3 linked regions of the Homo sapiens genome follow. The protein of the gene in region 1 interacts with the protein of each later gene in a biochemical or structural test. Each region holds a gene or a part of one and is shown in the gene's direction. Other genes may lie near its edges.

Region 1 (4,136 bases):
GGCGTGAACCACCGTGCCTGGCCAGGTTTTGTTTTTTCTAGAAAAGGGAGGCATCACTAGCCATCTTCTCTGATGGAGACTGCTGCTGGGAATAGACAAGCTGAGAGTGGCCCAGGGGGCTGGGAATATGAGAATGTCAGGACCCCTCTGTCCAAGGTAGCACTAAGCTCTAATGTAAACTGTGGTTACAGTTGTCACTACTAAAGGGTTAACATTTATTTTGCCCCAAACTAATCTTAAGTGCTTTTCGTGTATTCTTATTCAAGCCTCACAACAACCATGTGAAGTAGGTGCAATTATTACCCCCATTTTAGGGATGGGGAAACTGAGGCACAGAGCAGTAGGGAGAACACTTAAAATCTACTGTCTTAGAGATTTTCAAGAATACATTGTTACTAATAGTCACCGTGTTGTACAGTGGATCTCTTGAACGTATTCCTCCTGTCTAACTGAAATGTTGTATTCTTTGACCAGCATCTCCCTACCCCCACCACTCCTAGCCGCTGGCAACCACCACTCTACTCTCTACTTCTGTGAGTTCGACTTTCTTGGATTCCACATAAGTGACATCACATGGGATTTGTCTTTCTGTGCCTGGCTCATTTCACTTAATGTCCTCCAGGTTTATCCATGCTGTCACAGATGACAAGATTCCTTTTGTAAGGCTCAGCAGCACTGCATTGTGTATCAGTACCTCATTTCTTTATCCATTCATCCATTGTGGACACCTACGTTGATTCCACGTCTTGGCTATTATGAATAGAGCTGCAGTGAACGTGGGAGTACAGATATCTCGACATGCTGATTTCATTTCCTTGGAGTATCTACCCTGTAGTGGGATTGCTAGACCATGTGGTAATTTTAGTTATAACTTTTTAGGAACCTTCATGCCATTTTCCATAATGGTTGTACTAATTTACATGCCCATCAGCAGTGCACTAAAAGTAGCTTTTAAGTGTTCTCACCACAAAAACATGGTAAGCATGTTCTGCGTGTGTTGATGAGCTTGATTTAGCCATTCCACAATGTGTCCATATTTCAAAACAACATATTGTACATGGTAAATATACATAATTTTATCTGTCAATCTTTGAAATTGATTAATTTTTTAAAAACCCCTCTTAGGCTCACACAGCAACTGGCTGAGCCAGCAGTCACATCAGGCTTGGCTGGTGCCAGATCCTTGGTAGTTGGTGCTCTCAGCAGCCACCCTGAATGGCCTCCCAGCGGGAGCTTGCTGAGTATTTGTTGACACAATGATTGGCCCAGCCTCTGGGATCCTAAGCCTACAGCAGTTGTTCTACACTTTTTTCCATTTGAATTGCATTTATAACAGTTGGGGGTATACAATGAAAAAATAAATCCCGATTTCTGGCTTCTCTTAAAACATAGGAAGGTGCGGCGGGCAGCTCTGAGTGCCAGCCCGGTGGCAGATTTTCCAGAGTAGTGGTGTCTTGCCCAGGTATCCGTTTCATTCTTCAGGTTCATTGAGTCTTACAGATACAAGTTTTGAATCCATTGCTCAGGAGCGTTTAGTGCAGATGGTCTCTTCCTGTGTTCTCTGAAAGTGCTGTTAATAGCTGCTTTCTTCCTGCCCCACCCTCCATAAGAGGACAGGGCCGTGGCCCACACTTGAAAGAGGCCGGGGTAAATGCCTGGCCAGAGACACACACCGATGCCTCCAGCAGGCATGCAGGGAGCTCCCTTCAGGTCAGAAGGCGTGACCTTCATCTCACCTGTCGTCTTGGACAAGCCCTTGCGCTGCCTGATTTGGGAAGAGAGGTCGGCCTGAGCGCTGCCTCCTGTCCTTTGATATCTGGCACTGGGAAGTAAAGGGGAGAATCTTGGTTTCCAAATCCCAAATGCTCACCGCTGCCTTTGTTCCCTCACAGTGTGATCCAGCTTTGCTTCCTGAGCCCAATCACGTCATGCTGAACCACCTATACGCGCTGTCTATCAAGGTAATGACATGTCTGTCCCCATGAGAGCTGTGTTGCCCAGTGTGTGCTCTGAGGACCCCCAGCAGTGGAATGACCTGGCGGGACTGACTTAAAGGGCAGCTTCCAGGGTCTGGCACAGGCCATCAGGCTCAGGTTCTGAAGCTGGCCCGGGAATTTGTGGTTTTATGAAGCCCTTAATGATTCTCATGTCCTCTGAGGCTTGAGCCCCTTAGTCCAGCCTTTGATCATTTCCACCTTGTTCCTTAGGATGGAGTGATGGTGCTCAGCGCAACCCACCGGTACAAGAAGAAGTACGTCACCACCTTGTTATACAAGCCCATATGAAGAGCTGGGGGCGGATGGTGGCCCAGGAGACAGCACACCACCAGGCTCCACACGTGCATGCTTTCCCCAAGAGGGAATGGACTGTACATTGCTCATTTCACACTCTTCAGAAGACATTTCATACCTGCCCTGGTCCTGCTTGAAGGTTTGTCCAGGCAGAGCAGCTCCTGCAGCGCCTCGGTCTGTGACAGTCCTCCTAGCACCCCCATGGCTTTGAGCCTCGGGGACTCATCAAGTCCAAGAAAAGAGGGAGGGGTGGCAGAGGATCTGCAGCCCTGGCCCCGCGGTGCATGAGGCTGGGTGCAGTTCTAAACCTACATTCTCGATTTTTCTTAAGCCAAAAATGAATGCTAACTCCTTTGCCAGTAAAATTCTGGGAAACAGGGACTGAGGCCACACATCATTTCCAGTCATCTGTGTGTTTTTAAGGCCAGCCACTTGTCCCTGTTGAGGCCTGGCTATGGAACTAAATACAGTGTTGGTCTTGCCTGTCCTTCAAAATCAACAACAGATTGTCTCTCGGCTCCAGGGAGGTGTCATTTCTATAGAAATTAGAAGCTTTCTGATTTCTAGATGAGGTTTTACAATTGTTTCTTACAGTCATGTGCACTAAGTACTCTTTTTGTAAGCAGAGGTGGCTGGCTCTGCAGCCTTAAGGCCATTTTTTAAGTCACCACGTCTAGAAGTCACATGAACTCTGCTCAGCAATAATCTGTTCTCAGAACAGACTTTTCAACCTGCTGCCGGATTTCTCCATTCAGCTGGATGATCCTCAGGACTGACCAGTTAGCTGGCAGGTTGTCCAGCTTTTTATTCCAGTCATAATAGGTGACAGTGTTAACCGTGAAAACTTGAGAGGCACTCTGCCCTCTTCCCTATAAAATCACACAGCGTGATTTTACAAGGTCCCGTGGCACCTTGCTCAGGACCTCTGCCCCTAGTTAGCAAGACTGCAGCAGTTGCTGTTGCTTATTCTGAAAGGAATGTAGAACTTGACAGCAGCCTTCTGAGTCTGGGTCAGGAAGATGTCCTTTGGACCAAAGCAGACTTCTTTATACGCAGCTCAGTTTCCCGGGAGTCGCCACAGATGTACCCACTAGCCCAGGTTGCTGTGAGTCAGCGGAAGCTCCCGTTATGCCCTTTGCTCCTGGTGGGAGAGGGAGGAGTGAGCTCCCTGGGTTCCAGTATTTACTTGGTATACCTGAGTTTGGGGGTACCCTTTTTTGTGACTTTTCAAAACAGTGAATTACTGTCACCTTGATGGACAAGTTTCAATAAAACTTTGTAAAAATAATTGGACATGTGCCTGGAGGAGCTCTGATTTTATTCAGTCCCTTGGAGAAGAGACTGGAACTCTTCGAGAGTTGCGTTTCAGTACCGTTCTTGTGGCTCTGAGCGGACAGGGCTACTCCAGCTGCCCAGGCCTGAGAACCAGTCCTGTGACTCACACCCATTCACACAGTTTGGAACCTTAAGGGACCCCTAAAACTGAGCCCCTCTGAACAGCTCAAGTCACAAGGGGAAGCTGAAGAGGGGTAACAGCAGAGGCTCCTGGCTTCGGCCAGTTGTTGGTGTCCCCAGGCCAGAGGGTTTGTTTCCTTTTGCTCCTAAACAAGCCCGGTGGGACAGCCTGGGATCGTGACCCTGGCGTGTGAGAGAGCAGGACGTTGTGGAGTCAGAGCTGTTTTCATCCACTAAAAGAGGCCGTGTCCCTCCTCCAAAAAGGTGGAAGGTTATGGGTGTTCCTTTAAGCCTTCTCAGGTATCAGGAAACATTTTAAATTTAGCAGAAAAGCATGCTAATGAGCTCTACCCACTGGTGCAGAAAACCCAAGCTGAAAATGCTATGTAA
Region 2 (3,649 bases), on another chromosome or scaffold:
ACCAATTATTGCTAGTAGAGATTGGAAGTTCAATATCAATTTAGTGTAAAGTGAGAAAGTGAAATCCCACTTCTTTTTTTAGAGAGAAGATGAAATTCAATGAAGGACCTTAAGTTCCCCACCATACAAGGGCTTTAATTATTTGAATAACACAATCCTTGGACTTTTTTTCTGCTCCCAGAATACCACGCAACACTGATGTATTAAGCTTAATTCTAAAATACATATCAGATACAGGGTGCTGATATAATGAGATATATAATGTATCAGTGATTTAAGAAAGAATAATAGGAATGGAAATCTTAAATTGAAACTTTTTCAAGACACTTAAATTTTTCTAGTAAATCAGGAGGAAATCAGTCATTTTTAATCAGTTTTAGTTTTGTGGAAAGCAGTGTTTATGTGGGAGCGTAGTTTGAAACCACTGTTGGGGTGGGAGAAGAGTTGGTCAGAGAAATAACAAATTAAGTATATTTCTTGTTTAGCCACTTCAGAAAAACACACATTTATGTTAGTACTGTATATGAGCCTTAAGGGTAAGGGTAAGTGCCTTAAGTCTCTACTGTTTTTCTGTATTGCCCTGCAATATTTAATAAACATTACTTTTTCAATATGGAATTCATACTATACTATTTTAAATTGTTCTTTCTAATTCTCCATTTAGTATGAATAATAATGATAACTACCGTCATGTATTGAGTGCTTAATATACGCCAGGATTTGCATGGTGTTCCTCACATGCACTGGCTCATTTGGTCTGATTTCGCTAATTAGCTTTTGGAGTTTCTTGAGAGCACGTTCTCAGTGGCTTTAAAAAAACAAAAACAAAAGCAAAAAGAAAAAAAAACACCTGGATTATCAGTTGACAATAAATTAGAAGATTACTGAGCCAGCAACCCTTCTTGAGTTTTTTTGGATTGCATACAGTGCGTCTGCTGTCTTCCTGACTTGCCTTTATCCACACCACTCCTTCAAGGAGTTATTCGTCAGAAAAAGGCTGAAGAGCTCACTCATTTAGCTCTTTTTTTGTCTACTAACAGTGGGAAAGCAACTACTTCTGAAGTAGAAAAGTCTGTATTGCTTCAGAGTTACTCTGTTTACTTCTGGAACTGTTCTACATAACCATAAATGTTGAGAAGAGACTGTCCCACGCATCTCAGTCAAGTTGTATGGCAGTTTTACCTCTTTTGAAATATAAACAAAAGCATTCTATTCAAATAATTTTATAAAATTGACTGATTGTTTGAATTAATCAACTTAACTGTTTTCGGCATGACATTGAGCCACAGGTTTCAACCTCATTTTGGTTCCTTACTGTTCGTATTTGTAATATACTCTCATCACCAACATCTCGTTTTCTGCAGTGATTCTTACTGGGAAGGGCAGGATGAGTGGTGGAGGTCACATTATAATCTATATAAATTGAAAATGATCCACTGGAAGAGAATGTGTCTCTGCTTTCTCCCTTTCCCTGTTAAGGAACATTGATATTAGCGGAGTTGATATAGCCTTCTATAAAATAAACTTAGCATGATAAAGAAAAGAGATGGGGAGTTTGATTAGATAGGGTCAATTAAGACTGAATTTAAAATATAAAGGTCTCATCACTGTTTTTGTTTTTAATTAAGAGCTTAGAAGCTCTAATATATTGTGTTCTATTCAGTTTATAGCCAACTTAAATTATAGGTATGAGAATATAATTGCATTCTAATATCTGATAATTGAATATCCTTTTTTTAACCTTTAGAATTCAGAAATAGACTCTTCAATTACCAATAGCTGTAACTTTTAATTTACATATTATTTACTTTAGGGAAAAAAAGCATTTCATTCATGCTTTCTTGCTGTTCGTTTATAATTATTTGTGACAGAAAATCAATAAAATACATGCTTGAATTCCAGATACCAATGGATCAGATAACTCCATCCCAATGGCTTATCTTACACTGGATCACCAACTACAGGTAAAGGAGTACTTTCTTATTGAAAGTTGACTTTTTTCTTCTTAGAGAGTTTAAGTTGACAATTGTGTTGCTACCTGTCATTGTATAGTCACTCCTTAATTTATCCTTTTAGTTGGCCTCCTTAAACTTTTTAGAATCAAATCAAAATAATTCTTTTGGTTAAGTTAATCAAACTTTAAATTGGCAGAATCATATTCTTATCTTTTCAGTCATCTTAAAATCCTCCAGTATCTTTCTTTAGTACTGCTAAGCATTACATTTTCACTCTTTAATTTTAGTGCATTAAAACAAAACTCATAAGCTTATTTCTATTTAATACATTTGTGATACATTCTCATGTTCATAGTGACTGAAAATGTAAATAATATACTTCAGTGCCCCCTCATGAGTATGAGGGCTATAAACATCATTTAGTTTGAGCCTGTTTGCAGCCTGAAATGTCATACCAGAGACTACAACTCCAACAATCATGATTCTCTGTAACAGACTGTTAAAACAGCAAGAATAGATTTAAATGCTGAGTTAATTCTGACAAAAGGACACTGAGATTTTCTAGGGCATGGTTTAACACTTATTTTTAAAAGATCATTGCTTTAGTGCTATAAAAATATATCACAGTCTCTGTCTTGACTCTCATCTTAGCTAGATATTGAAATTTGATTTAATTATGTTTTAACATTCCTGATTATTTTCAGCCTCTAGCACCGTGCCCAAACTCCAAAGAATCTATGGCAGTGTTTGAACAGCATTGTAAAATGGCACAAGAATATATGAAAGTTCAAACAGAAATTGCATTGTTATTACAGAGAAAGTAAGTTATTTTTTATGAATAAAAATAAAAATACATTAGTATTTTGAGTTTAAAATATGATAAGGTGCAATGAAAACGTAGTTTTTAGAATTAGTCATTAAGTATACTTTCAACTTGTTTAAGCTTTAAGCACCCTTTTACTAAAAATTTTTTATGCAAAACTCAATCCTTTTGACTATCATATTAGTGCTATGGAAAATAAACTGGTGCTTTATACTTGTTGTTTTATGTTCTCAGAGCTGTTTAGACTTATTATTATAAAGATTTATTGTTTTCTTGTAAATAGATAAAATAATTTGATTTATTAACATTCAGTTGTGCCTTATCTTAGAAACATTTTTGTAGATACATTTTTTCCAGGTGTATGTTTAGAATTGGATTACTTATTAAAAGACTGTATTTCATAACTGAGTGTTTTTCTGAGGAGTTATAGAAACTGCCTTCCTCCCTTTTTAAAGAAACACAGCCTAATTTCCTTACTACTGCATTCACAGTTCTTAAATATGTATGTATCTTCAGTTTTCTTAAGCATGACCTCCATGAAATTTTATACTTAGGTAACTGAATTGTTGGTGGTAACTAAAATGAAGTGATAAGGAAAAAATTTTGGCAACTTTATATATGTATGATAATAGGATTCCCTTCATTAATTTTAATCTAAATAAATGAAAGTTGTTTTTTTCTGAATTTGCGAAAAGCTTTCTGTATGTACTTCAAAAAAAAGAGAGAAAAAATTGTTTTATCATAATTTATTGATACAGTGATTTAAATGGAACCAACCTGGTATTTGAAAGGTAAGCCTAAATAGGAAATTAAATACTACAGTTTGGAAATCGTAGAAGTAATTATCAAACTGCTGGCACTTTTATGTTGA
Region 3 (3,649 bases), on another chromosome or scaffold:
TTGGCTTGTAACTTTTTTTTTTTTTTTGAGATGGAGATTCACTCTTATTGCCCAGGCGGGAGTGCGATGACACAATCTTGGCTCACCGCACCTCTGTCTCCAGGGTTCGAGTGATTCTCCTGCCTCAGCCTCCCGAGTAGCTGTGATTACAGGCATGCGCCACCACACCTGGCCAATTTTGTATTTTTTTAGTAGAGAAAGGGTTTCTCCATGTTGATCAGGCTGGTCTGGAACTCCTGACCTCAGGTGATCCGCCTGCCTTGGCCTCGCAAAGTCCTGGGATTACAGGCGTGAGCCGCCGCGCCTGGCCGGTTTGTAATTTTTGATGAAACTGTCGGGGTAGAGTGAAACAATCTCAGACTCCCAAGACTTGATTCACACTGCTTGACCCTGTCACCTATGACCTAGGGGGTACCCTGGCCTGGGGCCAGAGCAGGTGTGTTGGGAGGGGGTTGCATGGTGGTACTGGACTCCAGGATCCAGAGAGGGTCTTCAAGGGACACCTGACTCCCCAGGAATTTTGAGGGAGTTGTTTGAGGAACAAGATCTCTACAGGGTAACATTGTGAACCTATGGCCTTTGGAGCATTGCTTTGTACCATGTGCCCCTCACTTGTCTGCCCTCCTCCACCCACCCTTTGCCAGAGTTTGGGGTTTCCACCCTACTTCCATAGGCTCAGCCCTGAGCTTGTAGGGTGAGATGTAGCCTGTTTCCTTCATCCTTGTCCGGCTGTCTTGGCTGGATGTGGGAGGTGGTTTTGGATCCCGGAGTGGGGTAGGGGTCTGTCTGGAAGAAAGAGTTGGTGTGAGGTAGTGGGGTGGGCAGGGGTCTGTCTGCTTATGATGTCCTGGAAGTTGGGCCACTCCCTGGTTTGGCATCCAAGTGTTAGGTCATCTGGGACACAGCTCCTGGTGTCCCTGACTTCCCACTGAGACCCAACAGATTTCTCTGGCAGATGTGGGAACAAACAGCTCAGGTTTTAAACATCAGGCTCCCCTTCTCCCCTTCATGTCCCACCCCAGACAGGAATCTGTGCTTGTCCCGATCAGACCATGAACACTGCTTTGTTTCTCAGGGAGGCTCAGCCTGTGGCTCTGGTTCACTTGGGAGACTTGATGGGGGTGTTGGCAGACACTCTTTACAGGTGGACAGGGCCCAGGGGCCCAGGGATCCTGCTGAATTTTATAGGACGGGGAGGAGTAGACGTAGATGAGTCCCGAGCCCACCATGAGTTCAAGGAGCTGCTCCCTTCCTCTTCTGCCTCAGGGGTGAGGATCAGCATCTTTAAGACCCACAGAGAGAGTAGGTGGGTTAGGATGATGGGGGCTAGGGGCTAACCTTAACCTGGTTTCTGTGCCACTGGGGCTGTGCCCCTTCTGAGCACCTTGCTGTGGAGGTGCCTCTCACTGTGGAGATGGACTGGGCTACTCAGGCTGCTGGGAATCGTGGGCATTTCTGAACCTGTGTTCCCCAGCCCACGGGAAAGGGTGTGAGCAGGACTGGGTGCCAGCCTTGGTGTGGGCACAGGCTGAACTGCCTGCCCACGTGGGCCCTGCCAGAGCACCAGCAGCCCTACCTGCCACATTCCTGAGCTTGGCCTCAGCCCTGCCTGCGCAGCCTTTTTTGTCTTAATCCCATACCTGTGCCCGTCAGGAGCAATTTAGCCCCTTCAACTCTGCCCCCCAATCTGAGTGCACCTTTCTCCAGCCATAGAGTCCAAGCCCTGTGGTCCCAGCAGCAAGCCTGGGACCTCAGGGTCTCGTGTGTGCATGTGTGCGTGCATGCGCATGTGTGTTCATGTTCTTGTGTTTCTGCCATAGCTGGCTTCTGGGCTTCTGGGCTCCAAATGGACCCCACCCTTGGGAATCTGATGAGAATGTAAGGCTTACTGAGAATTAATCCTGCCAGGAGGTGGGGCTGTCTAGGGGGGCAGAGCTGATTGCTGGTTCGAGGCTTGGGGAGCAGAGTTAGGGCTTAAACTCGCAGCAGCTCACAGCCTCCTCTGATGGCTTCCTGCTACCTTGCTTTCATTGGGTATTGGAGGGCCTGCCTTCATTTGGAAGCAAATGAATGAGATCATGTCTGGGGTGGATCGTGGGCCGTTTAGGGATGGGCCAGGTGTCTGTATGCATAGTGTCTGAGGCTTGAGGACTAACTGTGGGGGAGAACTGGAGGAGTGGGCATGGGTTGGCAAAGCCGTGGTCCTGTAATACCTCCTCCTTTACTATACTGGCCTCAGCAGGGCTACTGCTGGGCCTTTTGTTGCTTTCGTACAAACTGGGAAAAAATCGTCCCTTGTTTTGGGTGGACTCAGCATGTCAGGCCATGGCTTGGCAGGCAGGGCACAGGCTGGATTTCGTATCTCCCTGGGCCAGACCTCCTTACACAGAGCACAACCTGTACAATATACACAAAGTGCTGGGCTTGGGCCCTGCACCTGCCAGGCCAAGGGTACTAGATTTGGGATGGAGAGGTCTCTGACTTTCTCAATTCCTGGAAAGAGAAGCTCTTGTCCTGGTCTGTTGTTGAACTGTGGGAGACCAAAACAGAAGCACATCCATATTTCCAGAGCTGGGTGGCACAAGGATCAGAAAGTCGGGAGAAGACCCCTAGAAGTCCCAGCTTAGGCTATGGAGGCTGGGATACCAGTTTCTCCCTTCACTTCTGCCAGGGACTCTAGATCAGCCCTGCATCTCCCCACTGCTATGGATACAGATCAGAAGCCCCCCTGCACTTTCTCCTTTGGTGCACACCTAGTCCCATGGCAGGCACTGTTGGGAGTCTATAGGGTCTCCCCAGCTGGCAGTAGACACTCACCTGAAAAGGGGTCTGTTGGGTTTGGCCACCATAGCCATTTCCTATCCCTTGGGCTCTGGGAGCCTCATCAGTTAGTAAGATAAGAAACCAGGGTCTATCCAGTTCTGCAGATTTCTCCTGTGGCTGTGGGCAGGTATCCCTCCCTCTCATCCCTCATCCCCAGGTACAAACTGATGAGCTCCAAGGTCTCCTTCGACTCTCAGATTCCTGAGTTAGGGGCCTCTAACCCTGCTCCATCTCTCCCCAGGGATGCCGTTCTGAGTGCCTGACTGCCTCGCCCCGAAGGATGGCCTCGGATGGGCATTAGAGGCACGGCGGCCCCGGGCTCCCGTCCCGTCCGTCTGTCTGTTATCGTCTGTCTCTCTTGACATCACCGCAGCTCCACCCCCTCCCGTCCCAGCCCCCAACGCCAGCTTCCTGCAGGCCCAGAGCCGGCATGAACTCTCCCAACGAGTCGGGTAAGAGCTGGGAGGTTGGAGAAGAGCACCCTGGGGTAGCTTCGGATGCAATGGGCTGTGTGGGTTTCCCTTCCAGGCCAGCTGACCTTTACTGTCTGAGCTATAAGGGAATGAGGGGGTAAGGAGTGGAGAAGTGTTGCAAGAAAGGGCCCATGAGGTAGACCTGGGAATCGAGGGATCGATGGTCCGGTCTGGTCCTGGGAAGGCAATGGGTCCTACTCTGCCCCCCATGCTTGCCCTCTCAACTTAGGGGTGTTCAGCTCCAGCTTCGCCTTCCCCTGCTAGCCAAGACAGGTGGGCCTGAGGGGGCAGTGTGTATCCCTTAATCTCTCTGGGCAGTCTGGGATGATGTTGGAGGAATTTCTTTACTATAG

The links.
Region 2: of the proteins of PRKAB1 (region 1) and MAP3K7, one has a biochemical effect on the other in vitro, tested with the Homo sapiens proteins (one study listed by BioGRID).
Region 3: of the proteins of PRKAB1 (region 1) and HDAC5, one has a biochemical effect on the other in vitro, tested with the Homo sapiens proteins (one study listed by BioGRID).

Annotation. Positions count from the first base shown.
Region 1 is NC_000012.12:119,678,041-119,682,176, forward strand, and holds the end of PRKAB1 (5'-AMP-activated protein kinase subunit beta-1), read left to right. Parts: intron 1-1,892; coding exon 1,893-1,961; intron 1,962-2,207; coding exon 2,208-2,285; 3' UTR 2,286-3,579; downstream 3,580-4,136. UniProt on the Homo sapiens protein: Non-catalytic subunit of AMP-activated protein kinase (AMPK), an energy sensor protein kinase that plays a key role in regulating cellular energy metabolism.
Region 2 is NC_000006.12:90,517,573-90,521,221, reverse strand, and holds part of MAP3K7 (mitogen-activated protein kinase kinase kinase 7), read left to right. Parts: intron 1-1,902; coding exon 1,903-1,964; intron 1,965-2,659; coding exon 2,660-2,775; intron 2,776-3,649. UniProt on the Homo sapiens protein: Serine/threonine kinase which acts as an essential component of the MAP kinase signal transduction pathway. Plays an important role in the cascades of cellular responses evoked by changes in the environment.
Region 3 is NC_000017.11:44,117,120-44,120,768, reverse strand, and holds part of HDAC5 (histone deacetylase 5), read left to right. Parts: intron 1-173; exon of another isoform or gene 174-331; intron 332-665; exon of another isoform or gene 666-782; intron 783-3,064; 5' UTR 3,065-3,253; coding exon 3,254-3,275; intron 3,276-3,649. UniProt on the Homo sapiens protein: Responsible for the deacetylation of lysine residues on the N-terminal part of the core histones (H2A, H2B, H3 and H4).